4 linked regions of the Homo sapiens genome follow. The protein of the gene in region 2 purifies or fractionates together with the protein of the main gene of each other region. This does not show direct contact. Each region holds a gene or a part of one and is shown on either strand. Other genes may lie near its edges. The genes, in order: CACNA2D1, ALKAL2, CACNA2D2 and LTK.

Evidence for each region.
Region 1: the proteins of ALKAL2 (region 2) and CACNA2D1 purify together in Homo sapiens (affinity purification with mass spectrometry; one large-scale study listed by BioGRID and IntAct). This does not show direct contact.
Region 3: the proteins of ALKAL2 (region 2) and CACNA2D2 purify together in Homo sapiens (affinity purification with mass spectrometry; one large-scale study listed by BioGRID and IntAct). This does not show direct contact.
Region 4: the proteins of ALKAL2 (region 2) and LTK purify together in Homo sapiens (affinity purification with mass spectrometry; one large-scale study listed by BioGRID and IntAct). This does not show direct contact.

The regions. Positions count from the first base shown.
Region 1 is NC_000007.14:81,947,736-81,951,176, forward strand, and holds part of CACNA2D1 (voltage-dependent calcium channel subunit alpha-2/delta-1 isoform 1 preproprotein), read right to left. Parts: intron 2,774-3,441; coding exon 2,657-2,773; 3' UTR 1-2,656. UniProt on the Homo sapiens protein: The alpha-2/delta subunit of voltage-dependent calcium channels regulates calcium current density and activation/inactivation kinetics of the calcium channel. Plays an important role in excitation-contraction coupling.
Region 2 is NC_000002.12:284,806-289,807, forward strand, and holds the start of ALKAL2 (ALK and LTK ligand 2 precursor), read right to left. Parts: upstream 3,287-5,002; 5' UTR 3,208-3,286; exon of another isoform or gene 3,160-3,207; intron 3,088-3,159; 5' UTR 3,031-3,087; coding exon 2,778-3,030; intron 1,820-2,777; exon of another isoform or gene 1,539-1,819; coding exon 1,485-1,538; exon of another isoform or gene 1,399-1,484; coding exon 1,318-1,398; exon of another isoform or gene 1,124-1,317; intron 1-1,123. UniProt on the Homo sapiens protein: Cytokine that acts as a physiological ligand for receptor tyrosine kinases LTK and ALK, leading to their activation. Cytokine-binding is sufficient to activate LTK. In contrast, ALKAL2-driven activation of ALK is coupled with heparin-binding to ALK.
Region 3 is NC_000003.12:50,493,380-50,497,903, forward strand, and holds part of CACNA2D2 (voltage-dependent calcium channel subunit alpha-2/delta-2 isoform b precursor), read right to left. Parts: intron 1-4,524. UniProt on the Homo sapiens protein: The alpha-2/delta subunit of voltage-dependent calcium channels regulates calcium current density and activation/inactivation kinetics of the calcium channel.
Region 4 is NC_000015.10:41,506,560-41,511,083, forward strand, and holds part of LTK (leukocyte tyrosine kinase receptor isoform 1 precursor), read right to left. Parts: intron 2,571-4,524; coding exon 2,472-2,570; intron 1,678-2,471; coding exon of another isoform or gene 1,663-1,677; coding exon 1,510-1,662; intron 1,099-1,509; coding exon 1,003-1,098; coding exon of another isoform or gene 955-1,002; intron 905-954; exon of another isoform or gene 886-904; intron 732-885; coding exon 536-731; intron 1-535. UniProt on the Homo sapiens protein: Receptor with a tyrosine-protein kinase activity. Following activation by ALKAL1 or ALKAL2 ligands at the cell surface, transduces an extracellular signal into an intracellular response.

The sequences.
Region 1 (3,441 bases), on a different chromosome or scaffold from region 2:
ATGTAACTCAGAAAAATACTAAATGTAATGTAATAATTTGATGGGATGAGTGTTACTGTCTTAAAAAATATGCTAAAAGCATGAAGACTAATATTAGTCATGGGAACAACTTTTATTCAGCTTGTTCTTACCCAATTTGTAATTGCATTTATGGTTGTCATAATATATAACTTTATAGCAGAAAATAAAGGTTTATAGCAAAACTCATGCATATAAATATATTTTGATGGCAACAGAAATTAAATAGGATCCTGCCAAGAGATGCCAAGTTTAACCGCGATTAATACAATAACAATGTAATTGATGAAAACATATACTCGACATTAGCCATGAAAATATATTTAATAGATTTTGAACATAATTTTAAGGTAGTTTGTTGTATGCTGGAAGCAATTCAATTGTTTTAATGTGCATTGTTTATATACACAAACTAACAATTTTATATTTTGATACCCCCTTCCCAACACTATCATGATTTAAGATAGTCTAGCAAAAATTGAACAATAACTTTTAAATATTTAACAAACAACATGATTAAAACATTGTTACTAGAGTGAGAAGTTTTTTTCCCCACATATATTTTAAATCACTTTGGTGTTTTCTAAAATGTCAATACCAGTTATGAATGACACTACAAAATCACAACAATGCATTAGAAATGGTAACTGATGTCAACTCTTAGAACAATAGTTGGCAAAGTGATTCCATTTCCCCCCACCTTTTTATTGAAAAAAAAAATCTTGAAATGTACACAAATGGTACCTAAGGTATATTGGTGGTGGGAGGGAATTACAAATGTATGCAAAGCTAAAAACAAAACAAATGTTATCTTTTAAGCTACGTTAAATTATTGGTTATATCTTTGATATGTGGAGCATATTAAAGCATGCTGGATAATGTTAATAACTTTGACTTAAAAAGGATATGTAAGAAAATTTCCAGCATATACACATACCAGTAATTGGCATGTTCCAAAAAAAGAAAAACTGCATTTTATCATAAAAAATATCTACATACGTTCAGCCTTCAGTAAAATTATTAACTATTCTTAGAATTACACATTCATAGTTTTTACCTTTTCTTCAAATACTGTTTGCTCCAGAAAATAATTTTTAAAAGCATAAATAATCTGCTACCATATTAGTCTATAATGAAATATCTGATTTACTACACTAACCATTTTCACCAATGAGGCTGTATAAAAAACAACTTTTATTATTCACAATCAAGTATTCATGTGCATACATAGAGATTCAAGGTTTCCTATTTGTTCAGATTATTGTAAAACCCTTATCAACTTGCATGGAAATTTTGGCCAAACGATCATACCATTTAAAATGGAAGGGCAAAAGCAGCAGTAGCAGGAACTTTTGGATTGTATGTGCTACTATTGAAACGAACAAAGAGGAAACCTAGGATGAATCTTCATTGAGAACATATATGTACTTTTCAAAAAATAAATGTGTCAAATCTGATTTATGTACTTAAAATATCTGTACATAGGTTATCAGGCGAAAGCATGAATCTGTATAAAATTCATTAATTCTCATTTCACCATTTATCTAACCCCAATCATTCAGCATTTACATTGCACAGTATATTCAGAGTAGTTTAACAACATTTTAAAGATGACTTAAGTGCATTTACACTGCAAGGTTCAGATTCTTACATAACAATATCACTCAGTTAACTTTTCAATGACTACACTCTACAGTAAGAGAAAAAACAACTGAAAAGTTAAAATAGCAGCAGCATCATGCAAAATACCCTTGGTAAACCAAAGTTCATTTATCACAAGAAAAACATTTCCCCCTCCCCCCTGACAAGCTTTTCTTAGAGCATTTTTAAATATCTGGCTAGCACTACATAACTGTACTGTGAACAAAAGGAACATTACATCAAAGCATTTATTAAGGGCTTGCTTACATTTATGAGGAAATATGTCACATATTCTAATTTCTCCCTCAAGCACCTTTAGTTTAATAATTTCTTAGTTACTATTTTCAAACCATCAATTCATTACCCCATCAAAATTGAATTGGTCATCAATTGTGTTTTATTTTTGGCAAAGAAGCCGTTCTTCATAAGGCATTTTATTCATGGCAAATTTTTCATAGAAAATTAGCCATTATTTATATTTCAACAATTTAGACCAATGTTAATTCTCTCTTTCTCTATATATTTCAATAATTGCTACTTAAAGCAGGAATTAACTTTTCACAGAAGAAAAAGTGAAGGCAAAAATAATTTCTTTCCCCTTAGAGATTTTCTTAGTAAAATTGCAGCAAGTCAAAATTCCAGGTCAATATCAAGACATTTCTTATGGTTCATTAACAATTGTATGGGGAACCCTTTCACATGTAATCACCAACAATGCAACAACAAACTCCCAAATTTTCCAATAGAGGACACGTATAGGATTTTGCTTTGATGTTACACATAGATGATGCAGCATTCACACACGTTTAAGGATCTGACACCCTGACATGCAGCCAGTGGGTGCCTTAGGAGTCTGCGCCTTAGTGTTATGCCATGGAACAGGCCCAGCTAATGTTTGTCTGATTTTATAGCTGACCCTACGTTACTGTAATTGAGGGCAGGGCTCATGTTTTGGCAGGGTCTGGAGTTTAACTATGCAGATTTGGTTTTTAGAAGGTCATAACAGGCGGTGTGTGCTGCCAGATACCAGCCAAAGTAGTAGAAACTGGATTCCAATGATATACCACAGGGAGGGATTTAATCCAGAAACACCACCACAGTCAGTATAATCCTCCTGTTGTTAAAAAAAAAAGAAAAGAACAGAAAAAGAAAAATCTAAAAATCTTGAAAAATATTTAGTAACACATCTTTCAGAGTAATCCATATTTAGTTCACTTTCTGAACTTACCTTATAAAACTGCTGTAATTGAAATCCAAAGAAATTACTTTCTCCTAGATTTTATCATTGAGGAATTTCCCTAGCATCATTTGACAAATGCTTTAAATTTTTAGTTGTAGCTTTTGATGATTATGAAAGAAAATAATAAATGCTGTTTGAATAATATACTAATTTTAAAGAAAAAACTTTCACAGTATCAAAAATCCTATATATTTATAAATGCAAGAAATAAATGTAAAATTTAATAGTAGGTTTTATAATTCCCAAGAATTATGATTTTAGCAACTATGCTCCATATGGTAAAGTTGGGGACTGGTAAAATAAATACATTTCCATTTCCCATATTTCTTATACAATTTATAAGGCTCAACATAGAGTGCAATCATAGCATCTGGACCTTCATCAAGAATTAAAGTAAAATGGGAATAATGTATTTGAACCATTGTTTATGTTGGTTCAAATACATTATTTGGACACATATAGGATTTTGCTTTGCAAATATATATCCAAAATAGAGAGCTAAGCTAGGAAGAGATTTGTCTTGAGACAACCAAGAAATATTA
Region 2 (5,002 bases):
ATCCTATTACTGTAAGGAAATAGGTAATATAAAATATATGTACATCAAAACAATACAAACGACAAGATTTTCTGGCCCCAAGAGCCACATTAATGATTCCCAAACAGGTGATTACATTCCAAAAGAAGAAAACAGGAGAGTACTAGTGTGCCAGGTGCACATGGAAGGGTGGGGCCCAGCACCAAGAATATAAAAACTCTTCAGGAAGTGTGTGCTGCTGGCCTTGGCGTGAGGATGATGTTGCTAAAGGTATGGTCAGAGGGGCCGAGGCTGCGTTCCATGCATCTTTGTGCGGTGATGTGAATGCTAAAAGTGCATGTGCCTTAGCCTTGTCCAAAACGCGCTGGTGACGCTACTTCAGTGGGCCAAGGTTCATTGGCATGCACCCGGCACACAGAAGCAGCTCTATAAATGATGGTTATTATTATTTGAAGTAATTTTGCTGCCTAAACAAAGAAAAGCACTTATACTTCGTGTACATTGGCTTTTCGTTTGTTTGTTTTTGGAGAGGGAAGGCAGGACAGCAAGTCCGGAACGCTGCCTGGTCCAGCTGGAGAGCCCTGATGACAGCAGTTAGCAGGATGCCTAGTGTTTCTGCATGACTTTTCTCCTGTGAGCCTTAAATAAAATCAAAGTTGGAGTCCGAATTAAAAAAAATGGGTTAGGGCCCTATCACTGTAGCTAATAAGGCTTCAGTGAAGAGAACAAGGAGCTACTTTTGGAGAAATAAAATGTTTTGTTATGAATAAATAGCCAAAAGCAGGTTAGGAAGACTGAAAAGAAACAGGAGAGAAAGCTACTGCTGAGAGCTATGTTGATAAGGGCAGCTCTGCATTTCTGAAGGAGTGATGGAGCCAGCCAGAGAAACAGTTTTGAAATCACAATGAAATTCCTGGGTGATGAGGTTATAATTACCAATGGGAAGAAAAAGTCTCTGGTAAGAGCAGTGGAGATGATCCAGGTCAATCTTATTCTTGGAGTCAGTTTAGCAACTCATTCTTAACATCTGACTGCCATAGTAGAGTACACACAAACATGGGCATTGGAGGAGAATTAACAGGAGGAGAATCGGAGTTCAGCCCATCCCAAGAGCCTATTATTCCAATGACTGTAAATAATTTCCAGTTTGGCGTTAGCTGATGCAGAAGTTAGTTATCTTCTGCAATGGTCTGGCGATCTTGGCCCCTAACTCCATAGTGAGGAAGGAATAGGCAAATTTGAGCTAAGAAGGCAGGGGCCTATATGAGGAAATGGAAAGAGGGGAACCGCTGCCTGCACTGCTCTTGCATTTTATAAAAATCCAATGCTGTTACTTACATGCAGGAATGGTGCAGTCTCTGGTGTTGTGATAAAGTCTATGGAAGTGTTTGCTGCACTTTGGACTAAAATAAAGAGGGCCTGGAACACGGAAGAAGAAACAGATCATGAAGACTCACAGGTGAAAAGGAGCTCTGGGAGACGTGAGGAACGAGGAGAAAACTTACCTGTAAGGTGTTTTAGAAACTTGTCCTTCATCCTCAGATCTCGAGGAACAATTTCTGTTTCAGGGAAAAGAAAGTATTATATTACCTGAAGGACGCATTTTTTAAAAATGTGATCTTAAGTGAATGTTGAAGAAAATTGGAGCTCCATATTAGCCAAGTTGCTTTGCACAAAATAAAAAAGACTGGGGCCCTGGATTGCAACACACGACAGTGAAGAAGACTCAATATCAGGGACATTTATTTTCCTTGAAATAACAGTAACTGCTCCTGAAGCTCCAGGATTATGTCGGCTGTCTACCCCGTGGGATGCAGACAGAGACCACGAAGTTACAGAGGTAAGAAAACTGTTTTTTTTTTCTTTTAAACATTTAACTTCCAGTGAATAAGTCACTTTTAGGCACTTTAGTTTTAAGGACCTTGGGAATCAAATCCCACAACATTTCAAAGTTTTTAGAGAAAACCTGACCCTTCAAACAAAAAAATGGGTTACAGAACATTACTTTATCTAGATACATATTTAGAGTAAGGATTAAAAGACCACGTTTCAGTGAGGTGTAAATTAGTGGGAATATGCATGAACCTGGTTTGTAGGGTAAGAATCCCAGGGAAAGACTCTGCCAAGCAAACTTCTTCCACCAGGGTTCTCCGCACACAGTGGGTGGGGAGAACCCTGCAAGGGCGTTCTTCTTGAGTTCAGCTTTGTTTTTGCGTATTTACAGCCCTCTCCATCTTCACTCCCCCGTTCAGGGCTCCTGGCTGAGCCCCGACTGTGTGTGAAGTCACGCCCTCTGAAGAGGAGCATTCGCATCCACAGCTGACCCCCTAGTGAGTCTTCATTCACTCCTAACTTGACGCAGCCGGGATAAAACTGACCTTATCATGTTTGACCTGATTGTGTCACAAAAGCATTAGACGCTTTCATGCTTTCCTGGGAAATTCCCCGTGGGCCACCACTCTGGGCAGGGCCATGAAGGAGCCTGGATGCTTCCTTTTCAGTTGGGAAAGCTTTGCTGGAAATGCTTCCATTTCCAAAGTGACGGTTGACAGTTTAGTGTGGAAACCACCGACCCGCGCCGCAGCTCACGCGCGCCAGAAGGAGACCAGGCGCTTCTCCGCCAGGCCTCATGCGCGGACCTATTGCTGCTATTTTCTTTTTCTTAAAAAAAAAAAAAAAAAAAAAAGGAATCCTGCTGTTCAGTGGTCAAAATTGATGTCTCTTTTTGAAACGTGTTTCTCAAAGACAATTCTATTTCCCAGCAGCCCCGGCCCTCGGGCGCGCTCGGCCCCACTCACCCACTCGCTGCTCCGGCGAAGGCCCCAGCCCCGCCGCCTCCGCGCGGCCCAGGGCGCAGTCCCGCCCGAGGAGCTGCAGGCCCTTGTGCTCCGCCGAGTGGTGCTTCCGCAGCTCCTGGACGAGTTCCACCACCAGCCGCAGCAGCGCCTGTCCGTCCGCCGGCTCCCGGGGCTCCGCGCCCCCCCGGCCGCGCCCCGCCGCCCCCAGCACCAGCAGCAGCCCCAGGAGGAGGGGGTGCCCGGGTCCGCGCATCGTGCGCTCGGGGCCGCGGGGCTGGGAGACTCCGACACGCGCCGAGAGCTGGGCTCGCTGCGAGAGAAGGGGCGCGGGGGGCCGGAGAGAAAGTCAGCGGGGGAGGGGGACGGAGCGCGGGGCGGGGGAGGGGAGGGGAGGCGGGAGGAGCCGCTGGCGCTGGACCCGGCCCCTCACCTCCGCGGACCCCGAGGAACAAGCCGGCAGGTGAGGGAGCCGCGGTCTCCTCGACGATCACGCCCGAGGTCCCGCCCACGGGGAGCGACCGCCGCTGGTGCGGAAAGGAGCCCCCGGAACCCGCCCGCCCGCCAGCCCGGCCCCTCCTAACTTTCGCCCGAAAGGCCGCGTCCGCCGAGCGCGCTGCGCCTGGCGCGGGCGCAACTTTCTTTCCCCTTTGGAAGCCGCGGGTGCCAGGCAGCTCCCCGGCCGCGGGCGGACCTCGGAGGGGCCGCGCTCCCGCGCCTACCGCTCTCCAAGAAGGCGGCGCCGCGCGCCGGGCCCGGCGGCCGCGCTCAAGTTTCCAGCGTCGCCTTTGCGCGGTGGTCGCCGGCGAGCGCCGAGTCCCCGAAGCCCACGGAGGAGGCCGGGTGCGGACCCTCGCGCTGGCCCCGGCCGCGCCACGTGCTGGAAGCCCCTCCACCTCCCGGCCATGGCGCCCTCCCGCACCTGCCCGGCGCCACCCGGGAGCCACCTGCGCGTCGTGGCCGGGCCGGTTACCTGGAGCCGCCGGAGTCGTCGCCGTCTGTGCGCACGTCTGTCCCCGCGCCCCGAGCTGCGCCACTACTCCATGCCCGGCGGGCGGAGCGCACGGGACGCGGGGACTCGGCCGCTCCGAGCGCTGGACCCACGGCCGACCTGGGGTGCGCCGGCTCCGAGTCCCGCCTCAGACCTCGGGGAGCTTCTTATCCCCGCGCCCGCCGACGTCAGGCGGGTCCCCAAGGGCTCCGAGCGGGGCTTTAATTAGAAGCCGCTGAAGTGTTAGTACCCCCATGCGGATCTTCGTCAGTCCCCCCGCCTCACCTCGCTCTCGCCTCCCCCCGTCTCCCGCTCCCCCTCAACTCCGCCCCCGCCCCCGCCCGGTCCCCCCACCCGCATCTCCACCGCGTCTCCCCCTCGCCCGCGCCCCGTCTCCCGCGCCCCTTCCCTCCCCACCTTCCCCATCTCCCGTCTCCTCCTCTCCTGCCCCACCTTCCCCCACTCCCCGTCTCCTCCTCTTCCCCCTGTTCTCCTCCCCCCGCCCCTCCCCCAGTCTGTTTCCCTCCGTTCCTGTCACTTGTGACAGGATGAGAAGAAACGCCTTTACCAGGAACTCGGTTCTGTTTTTGTCTAAATGTAGATCTTGGGCTATTAAAAAGGGAGCTGCCTGATTGCTTCGACATTTAATAAGTCAATTAGAGTCCATCCGTTTTGGAGGGATCCGCTCTCCGGACCTCGAGGGGTCTGCCCCGCCCGAGCCCAGTCCCCAGGTTCGGGTCCCCAAGCCCTGGTCCCCGAGGCGGGGCGGCCAGGAGGCAGGAGATGGGCGGGTGAGGACTCTCCACGGCCCCCGAGGTGCGCACAGCTGACCACCCGAGGAGGGGCAGGACCTGCACCCCCTCCCCAGACCCCCTGCGAGAGGACGAGCGAAGGTCCCTCCCCGGCAAGGACCGCGCCATCTGCGCGCTCCTCTGCGCTGGACCCTCGGCCCGCGGGTCCCTCGCGCCCCGGCAGGGAACGCCCGCAGGAGGGCACTTGCCTCCCGGACTCGTCTTTAAGAAAGTTTGGCTCTTTGGCCGAAGCCCGGCACATCTGTGAAAGTTCAGCAATTTGCCTCTTTTATTTTATTCTTGTAAAATGTATTATCAATCAGTTGCGCACTTTCCCATTCGATTGGTGCTTTCTGGGCAAGAGCTGGACGTCTTCCAAGTCCGCGATCTGTTTGGGAAAGGTGTTCTGAGTGCAATCAGAGAGGCGGAGTGGGCGAGAATTAAAG
Region 3 (4,524 bases), on a different chromosome or scaffold from region 2:
GCAAGGTTTCCTCCCCTCTTAAGAGAAACCCAGAGGAGACATCTCTTCCATGCCTAGTACCTGGGTCTGCAGATGATGCCTGGAGCTGTGGCAGCCATCTTGTTGCCATGCAGTAAGTTGGCCAAGGACAGACAGTTACACCAAAAGCGAGGCCACCAGGCTGAGCACAGGTGACCACTTGGTCTTTGCCAGCAGCCGCATCACACACCTGTTGGCTCCCTGTCAGGGGATAAAGGGCCCACCATGAGGAAAACCCACCACACATGATAAGCACAGAAGCAGCCTCTTGTTGGCAGCCAAATGCGCTCCTCAGACTCAGATCTTGAGGGGGTCGCAGTCAGCTCAATGCCTACTCCTCAAGGGCCCCATGACCCGGCACAGAGCTGGAGGCGGGGCACGGGTCTGGAGGAGGGACTCACAAAGGGCAGGGAGCCGGAGGAGGGTGTTGGTCAGGAAGGCTCCTGCCCCAGGGCCCTGGGCGAAGCCAGCAGCCTGGAGAGGGACACGGTGAGCAGTGAGCGAAAGCCAGAGGTGCGGAGGCCAGAGCTCTTCCCAGGACCTTCAAGTGTCCCAGATAGTCCCAGGGCCGGAGGCTGGAGTCAGCCCAGGCAAGGCCTCAGGGGCTAGCCAGGGAAGTGGGGCTCTGCCCATGGCAGGTTTCTGGGGTGCAAGGTCCCAGCTAGCCCAAAAGGGAGACACTCCAGCAAGCCTGGCGGGGGGTCCAAGGAGAGATACAAAGACTCCCAGGGCCCTAACACACCCACCACGGACTCAGCTCACAGAGAGAAAGGAGAAATGCCCATTTGCAAGGGCCCTTAGCACAGAGGCCTGCTCTGCCAGCTCCTTCTCTTTTCTCATAACTGAAGTGGGGGCAGGGCGGGGGTGGGTTGTTTAGTTGTTTGTTTGCTGGAACTGGTGGCAGCACCAGACCTGACCTTTAAGGCTTCAAATGCAGCGTTTTAGGCGGGGCCAGCAGGAGGAGAACACGGGCTGTGGAAGGAAGTGATCAAGACTGAAATGCCACGTCAGGCTGGAAACTCGAGGCAGAGCATGGGCCTCTACCATCTCAGGAATACGCCAGCCCCTCCAAGCCCACACTGCCTGGTGACAAAGTTGTCCTTCCCAAGGGGACCCAGAAAGCTTTTATGTCTCTGAAACAGCACAGGGACATCAGAGTTTGCCCCACAGAAACCCAAGGAGTTGGGGCCTCACACCACATAGACATCTTGCCCTTCGAGTTTGCCAAAGCAGACCTCAACTTGCCCCCCGACCCATGCCATAGATTTTATTTATTTATTATTTATTTATTTATAAATGACAGGCTCTCACTCTGTGTCCAGGCTGGAGTCCAATGGCACCATCACAGCTCCCTATAGCCTCAACTTCCTGGGCTCAAGCCATCCTCCCACCTCAACCTCCTGAGTAGCTGAGACCACAGGTGTACACTACTACACCTGGCTAATTTTTGTATTTTTTTGTAGAGATGGGGTTTTGCCATGTTGCCCAGGCTGATCTTCAACTCCTGGGCTCAAGTGATCCTCCCACCTCGGCCTCCTAAAGTGCTGGGAGTACAGGCGTCAGCCACTGCACCCGGCTGGATATTTTTATTTAAGAGAAACAGCTGTACATCAGTGCGAGGAAGGCTGCATAGGGAGTCGCCCTCCCCGCAGTCTGTACTGAGCATTAGGGATGAGGGCTGGGCCCTGCCCACAGAGTATGTGCAGCCACAGATATGTGGGGCTTGAAGGTTCCCTTCCCCCATCTTGGGCCTCAGTTTCCGTGTCTATATGATGGTGGTATCAGGACCTCAGGGATTTCTGTGGCTGTGGCATGTCCTTTCCAAGTCAGGGACGCATGCAAAGCCCATAATGCCCAAGGAGACGGTTGCACCCAGGCTCCCTGCCCCCACAGGAACCCCTCCTGGCCTGTAGGCTCCTGAGCCCCTCACAGCCACTTCCCAAAATCCCAAGGGCCCTGGGCCATCGCAGCACTGACAACACACAGGCGCGTCCTGAAAATGCCAGGAAAGCAAAACTCTCAGACAACAGAACCCACGAGAACTGGGTCCACACAGCTACTGGGGCCAGGGCCCATCACAGGGCATCACTGGACAGCCTTATTTATGAAGACTCAGTAGACAAAAATCCATCCTTGAAGGAAGTGTCTTCGCTGGAGATGCTCCAGATGGAGAACATGTGGAGGAATCATCCCTCCAGATCATCAAGGGATCATCAAGCCAAAGTTTTTACAGCCCAAATCGTGCCCACAGTGTCTTGCTGCGGGGAGGACCCAAACCCACAGCAGATACTCAAGGGCTGCCAGTCTCCTGCCCTTCAGTGTGCAAATGAGAAGCACCCACTCTGAAAGGGAAAAGTGCCAGCCCAAGGTCACACAGCAAGAGCTTCCCACTCTGCCTGAGCCCAGGCTCCACGCCCACCCTCCAGATTTTCCACGCGGGGAAGGGCTGTTTGCAAAGATGCTTCACTTCACAAAGGACTCACGGAGCTCCTCTGAGTCCCAAGTCCTCCACTGAATGTAAATACCATTCAATTTGCAAAAATTTGAATTACAAGGACGCAGCCTCTGTTTCCTTTGCAGACTGTCATCACGCCAGTTGGTAGAAGATCAAACTTTCCAGCTCAGCTTTAACTCAGGCTGTTTCTAACATAAAAGTTTGCAAAACACTGGCCCTAACAATCAGGATGCTTTATTTCCCACTGCCAGTGTTTGCCCAGCCGAGCCCTGGCATTAACCTCAAAGGCAGGTGGTGAAGGTGGGCACTAGGAGCCCATTCTGGCTGCAGAGATAAACCACACGTGTGCTTGCACTACATAGGCTCCCAAGCACATGCCCGCATTTGACTTCATATGCACATACACGCACACACCTACTGCTGCCTACACACGAGAATGCCCATGCACACACATCTACACACATGCATCCATGTGTGAGTACAAACACACGCACACAAGTGGGTATACGCACAAGCATGCTTAGATGTGAACACGTCTGACACATGCACACATACATGAACACACAGGTGTAGACACGCCCACATACAAGCTGACATGTGCACACAGGCAAAGGCAAGAGCCAAACACAAGAGGAAAGACTCACAAACCACAAGTGGGTCCCAAGTGCCTGTAGGGCCTGGATGGGTGCTGGGTGCTATGGATGAGGGGATAGTGGCTGGCACTTGGAGTGCAGGCCCAGCTAGACTGCAAATACCCCCTAGATCCAGTCGGGATCCACATGCCCTTATCACAGACTCCCTGGGGCCAGGCCCATCCCTCACAGTCTATCACACCCCAACCCTATGTGGCAGTACAGCCACGGAAGCCCTGTTTTACAGATGAGGCTCCAAGACCCTGAGAGGCTGTGGAAGTTCCCAAGGTCACACAGCTGTTGAGAGGTGTGGCAGAGTCTCAGTGCACACGAAGAGGGGGCTTGTTCAGAAAGAACTAGCCATCAGGGAAGGCAGGCATCAAAGGGGAAGAAAGGGGCCCAGGGTCTAAGAGGGGCAGGGAAAAGACAGGCAGAAGGAGTGACTTCTCAGCCTTTTCACCCACCTCTTCCCCTTTGTTGAATGAGGATCATTTCCAAGGTGGGAAAGATGGATACTGATCAGCAGGAAAGGCTTCCCATGCCCCTCCCCCTCTGCTAAACAATTAGGCTGATCAGAACTCAAAGGGGGTCAATCTGAAAAGCAGCCATGAGACACCCAAGGTATGGCCAAAGGAGGACGGGAGGTCCAGGCACCCTCACACTGGAAGAGACAAGGCCCAGCGGCCACAGCTAAAGCAGGGCGTGGAGAGGAGCAGGAAGACCCCAGATCTGTCTTCTTAGGGCATTGGAATGTCAGAGTTGGAAGGATCCTGGAAGAAAGGAAACTGAGGCCCAGGGGGAGGAGGGGTTTTGTCCAAGGTCACCAAGCAAGCTACCCAACTGAGAAGATTAGGCTGGGCTTGCCCTTGACAGAGGCCTCCTCACCTAAGATGGGGGCTTTCAGAACTCCTTTGTGAATATTCTCCCCACCTAATCCCAGCTAGACAGTCTCCTGGTTTGTGAGGCTCTCCCCTCACCAGGCTCAGTCACGGGTAACAGTGATGGCTGGGGACCCAGCAGGTCCAGACCAGATGCAGAAGGAAAAGCACTGTGAGGGCCCAGGTGAGAGGAGCGGGACCAGGACCGGGGACACCAAGCCAACAGCCTGAGTCTCACAGTGGCAGGGCAGGGCTTGGCTGAGTCTGCCCCTTAGGTCCTGACCTTATGTAGATTTGAATGACAGAATCTTGACTCCTTTAGGGAGGCCCCAAGAGACCCCTGTGGGGACCTGCAAGCCAGCAGGGCCATCTCAATCTCTGTGGTCACCTGCACTGGCCCCCCTTCTGCCCTTAGCCACAGGCAGCTCTGGAAGCTCTTCAGGTTCCACAGGACAAGAGAAGAAGGGAAGCAAAAAAAAGCAAAAACCACACACACACTTCCCTTGGGGAATACGAATATTGATTCTGTAGCTTCTTGTTT
Region 4 (4,524 bases), on a different chromosome or scaffold from region 2:
CTCCCAAAGTGCTGAGATTACAGGCGCCAGATCATATTTTTTTTTTATTGAGACAGAGTCTCACTCTGTCGCCCTGGCTGGAGTGCAATGGCGCAATCTCGGCTCACCACAACCTCCGCCTCCCAGGTTCAAGTGATTCTTCTGCCTCAGCCTCCCACGTAGCTGGGATTACAGGCATGCGCCACCATGCCCAGCTAATTTTGTATTTTTAGTAGAGATGGGGTTTCTCCATGTTGGTCAGGCTGGTCTCGAACTCCCGACCTCAGGTGACCTGCCTGCCTCGACCTCCCAAAGTTCTGGGATTACAGGTGTGAGCCACCACGCCCAGCTGAGAGATCATATTCTAAGAACTGGGACGGAGAGGTGACATTGAGCAAGTTACTTCCCCTTCTGGAGCTTCTCAGGGCCTCCCTCTCCCTTACACAAGGGATGTGGGCCAGATTTTTTCTGGGACTTATAATTCACTACAGCAGGGAGAGAATCAGAGGTGGGGATTCAGAGTGCATAGGTTCTCAGAAGGAGGCAGAAGACTTACCTGAGCAGAGTAACATTGGCTGGGGAAACCTCGGTGACACCTGGTGGCAGAGGCCAGGACTGGGCCGGGCCAAGCCCCACCTGGCAATAATAGGGATTGGGGGCTGTCCTGATGGCAGAGGTTCGAAGCTTGCTCAGCTCAAGCTCAGGGCTCGGCAGCCTCATCTCCTGCAGGCCCTGCCACTTCTTCTGCTTCACTGGGGGTGGGAAGAATAACGGCACACCCTCCACCTGCCCATCAACTCTCCCTCCCCCACCTGCCCAGGACACCCCTCCAGATGCTCATTAAGGTAAACGTTTTCCCCAGGCCTCCCCAGCTCCTTCCTATCTTAGAATCCCAGAGGAGTCTACCACGGCTCTGCTGCGGTGAGTGGTCTTGAAGTCAGCCCCGGGACCCCGCAGAAACCCATCCCAGCTCACTGGAGAGGAGCAGCCTTGAATCAACTGTGCCTGCTAGACGCTTCGTACCCAGAATCAGGACCCCACACACCATAAGGAGGCTCAGTGTTGAGGTTGCCACCACAGCCACCATCAGAACCAGAGGGCCTGGGGGCTTGTGCAGGTCTAGGGAGAAAGAGAGACACCTCCAGTGGGAAGGTCTTCTCTGTTCCTTTACCCTCAAGTTTTACCCACGCTTCAAGACTCAGCTCAAGTGTTAATTTTTCCATGATGCCTTCCCCCATTATCCTGGGCAAAAGCAACCTCTCCCTCTTGAACACCCCTAAAGCACTTTATACCTCCCACAACAATCGTCACTTGAGATATACATTTACATAGCTATATCTAAACATCCTCCCACACTGGACGACAGGCCTCTGAAAGGCACTGTGCACCGATGAATCTCCAATCCCCTGCCCAGCACCCACCACAGGGCCTGGCACACAGCAAATCTCTATACCATCTTTCCCAGTGGCCTACTGCTCCTCCCAGTCTGTGACCCCAGGAGTCCAGACCTTGGGCAAAGGTAGGACATACCCATGCAGGTGACGTTATCCACAGCTAGCTCCATGCCTTCTGGGCACAGGCATTCAGCCAGCTGGAGCTCTGCCTGCCATTGGCAGTCTCTCAAAGGGCAGTGACTGCAGTTGAGGTGCCTTCGGATCTCTACCTCTCCGTGGTTCTCGGTGACTGTGAGTAAAAGAACTGATATGATATGGTGTGGTAGGGCTGGGATATAGTAAATACATGCCTTTGGCTGGGTACAGTGGCACACGCCTATAATCATTGCACTTTGGGAGGCCGTGGTGAGCGGATCACCGGAGGTCAGAAGTTCAAGACCAGCCTGGCCAACCCCGCCTCTACTAAAAATACAAAATTAGCCGGGTGTGGTGGCGCACGCCTGCAATCCCAGCTACTCCAGCACTGAGGCTGCAGAATCACTTGAACCCGGGAGGCGGAGGTTGCAGTGACCCAAGATCGCACCACTGCACTCCAGCCTGGGTGACAGAGCGAGACTCTGTCTCAAAAATAAAAATAAATAAATAAATAAATAAATAAATAAATAAATAAATACATGCCTTTTCCAGCCACATGGTTAATTCTAGCCCAGGACTTTAGAGCAAAGAGCAGCACCAAGCTTACAAGGGTGGTGAGAGAAGCTGGGGGACTTCTGTCAAGCCTGCACACTCCCAGGTATTTGAAGCGAATTCATAGCAAGGGGGTACTTGAAAAGCACGCAGCATGCCCTGCATTGCCATCCAGCACGACTGGCAGCCCACTTTCCTTTTTTTTAAGACAGAGTTTTGCTCTTGTCGCCCAGGCTGGAGTGCAATGGCATGATGACAGCCCACTTTTCAAATGACCCTATGCTATGCAAGAATCCTGTGCTATGCAAGGTTATTCACAGTGCAGGTGGCTCTTCAGTGCAGTGCAGGAGTGGGCTCAGGGACTGCGGAAGAAGTCCAGGCCAGGCTCAGAGGTGGGGTTGGGGCCAATACCTGCCAGAGGCTGCAGGAAGAGCTCGCTGCTGGGGTGTATGAAGGATACTCCATCTTCCCCATCAGCCCAGAGGTTGTCAGTCTCTGAAGCGTCGCCCCCTGGAAGTGGAGAGTGATGGAGAGTTTGACTACAAAAATGGGGGATGGGGGAGAAGCTGGAATCTCCCGGTGGAAATCCCAGTGTGGCCCTCTCTTCTCCAGCATCATGATGCAAATGCTGTCTGTTCACAAGTGGGAGTGAAGGAGGTGAGGAGGGGGTAATCAGCTGGAGCCTGAAGGCCTCGCTGAGGCTGGCTGGGATGCCTCCTGCCTGCCTGAGCCCCTCCTGTCCCATGTCCTCACAGTCCCTTTCTGTGAGAATGTAGATCATGTGTGTATGTATGAGCAGTACAGCCCAGACAGGCACAAAGGCATTTACACTAGTTATTTGATCAAAACACAGATGACTGGGACTCTCCCTTACAGTTTCTGATTCAGTATGTTAGAGAAGGGCTGAGAATTCGCATTTCTTTTTAAAAATTAATTTTTAATTAAAAATAAAAATTCAGGGCCAGGTGTGGTGGCTCACGCCTGTAATCCCAGCACTTTGGGAGGCCGACATGGGCGGATTACGAGGTCAGGAGTCCGAGACTAGCCTGACCAACATGGTGAAACCCCATCTCTACTAAAAATACAAAAATTAGCCGGGCATGGTGGCGCATGCCTATAATCCCAGCTACTCAGGAGGCTGAGGCAGGAGAATTGCTTGAACCCGGGAGGCGGAGGTTGCAGTGAGCTGAGATTTGTACTACTGCACTCCAGCCTGGGCAACAGAGCCAGACTCCATCTAAAAAAAAAATTCATATATTTATTGTATACAGCATGATGTTTTGAAATATGTACACACTGTGCAATGGCTAATGCAAACCAATATATACACCACCTCACATGCTTATTTTCTGTGGTAAGAACACCTATAATCTACGCTCTTACCAATTTTCTTTTCTTTTTTTTTGAGACAGAGTCTTGCTCTGTCACCCAGGCTGGAGTGCAGTGGCACGATCTTGGCTCACTGCAACCTCCGCCTCCCGGGTTCAAGCGATTTTCCTGTCTCAGCTTCCCGAGTAGCTGGGACTACAGGCATATGCCACCACGCCCGGCTAATTTTTGTATTTTTAGTACAGATGGGGGTTTCACCATATTGGCCAGGCTGGCCTCAAACTCCTGACCTCAAGATCCACCCGCCTCCGCCGCCCAAAGTGTTGAGATTACAGGCGTGAGCCACCGCGCCCCGCCTCTCTTAGCGATTTTCAAGAATACATCGTCATTAACTACAGTCACCATGTAGTACAGTAGATTCTGGAAGGTATTCCTCCTATTTAACTGCCATTTTGCATTGTTTTGACCAGCATCTCCCCAACCTTCCCCCAACTCCCAGGATAATTTCCATTGTTTTTTTTTTAATCTTTGAGACAGAATTTCCCTCTTGTCGCCCAGGCTGAAGTGCAATGGAGTGATCTCGGCTCACTGCAACCTCCGCCTCCCAGGTTCAAGCAATTCTCCTGCCTCAGCCTCCAGAGTAGCTGGGATTACAGGCTCCCGCCACCACGCCCGGCTAATTTTTGTATTTTTAGTACAGACAGGGTTTCACAGGTTGGCCAGACTGGTCTCGAACTGGTGACCTCAGGTGATCCACCTGCCTTGGCCTCCCAGAGTGCTAGAATTACAGGCGTGAGCCACCAGGCCCAGCTGATAATGTGCATTTCGAACAACTTAGGTTGTGGGGATATTACCTGTTCCTGGACCACACTTTGAGAACCACTGACTTAACCCAATCCTGCCTTTCTGCCCCTTTGCTCAGCTTGCTCACTCGGCCAGCTCTAAGTTCTGAAGACTGCTGCAGAACAAGGCAGGGACCTGCTGTGATGGGAAAGATCCTGGATTAAACGGAAATCTAGGGAGTCCTGTCTGCATGCTGATTTGCAGTGTATTTGACCTCCTTTTCTAAGAGCTCCTGCTTTTTGTTTGGAGCTGCTGAGCAGGGCTTAATGCCTCTCCCACACCTATCCTCCCG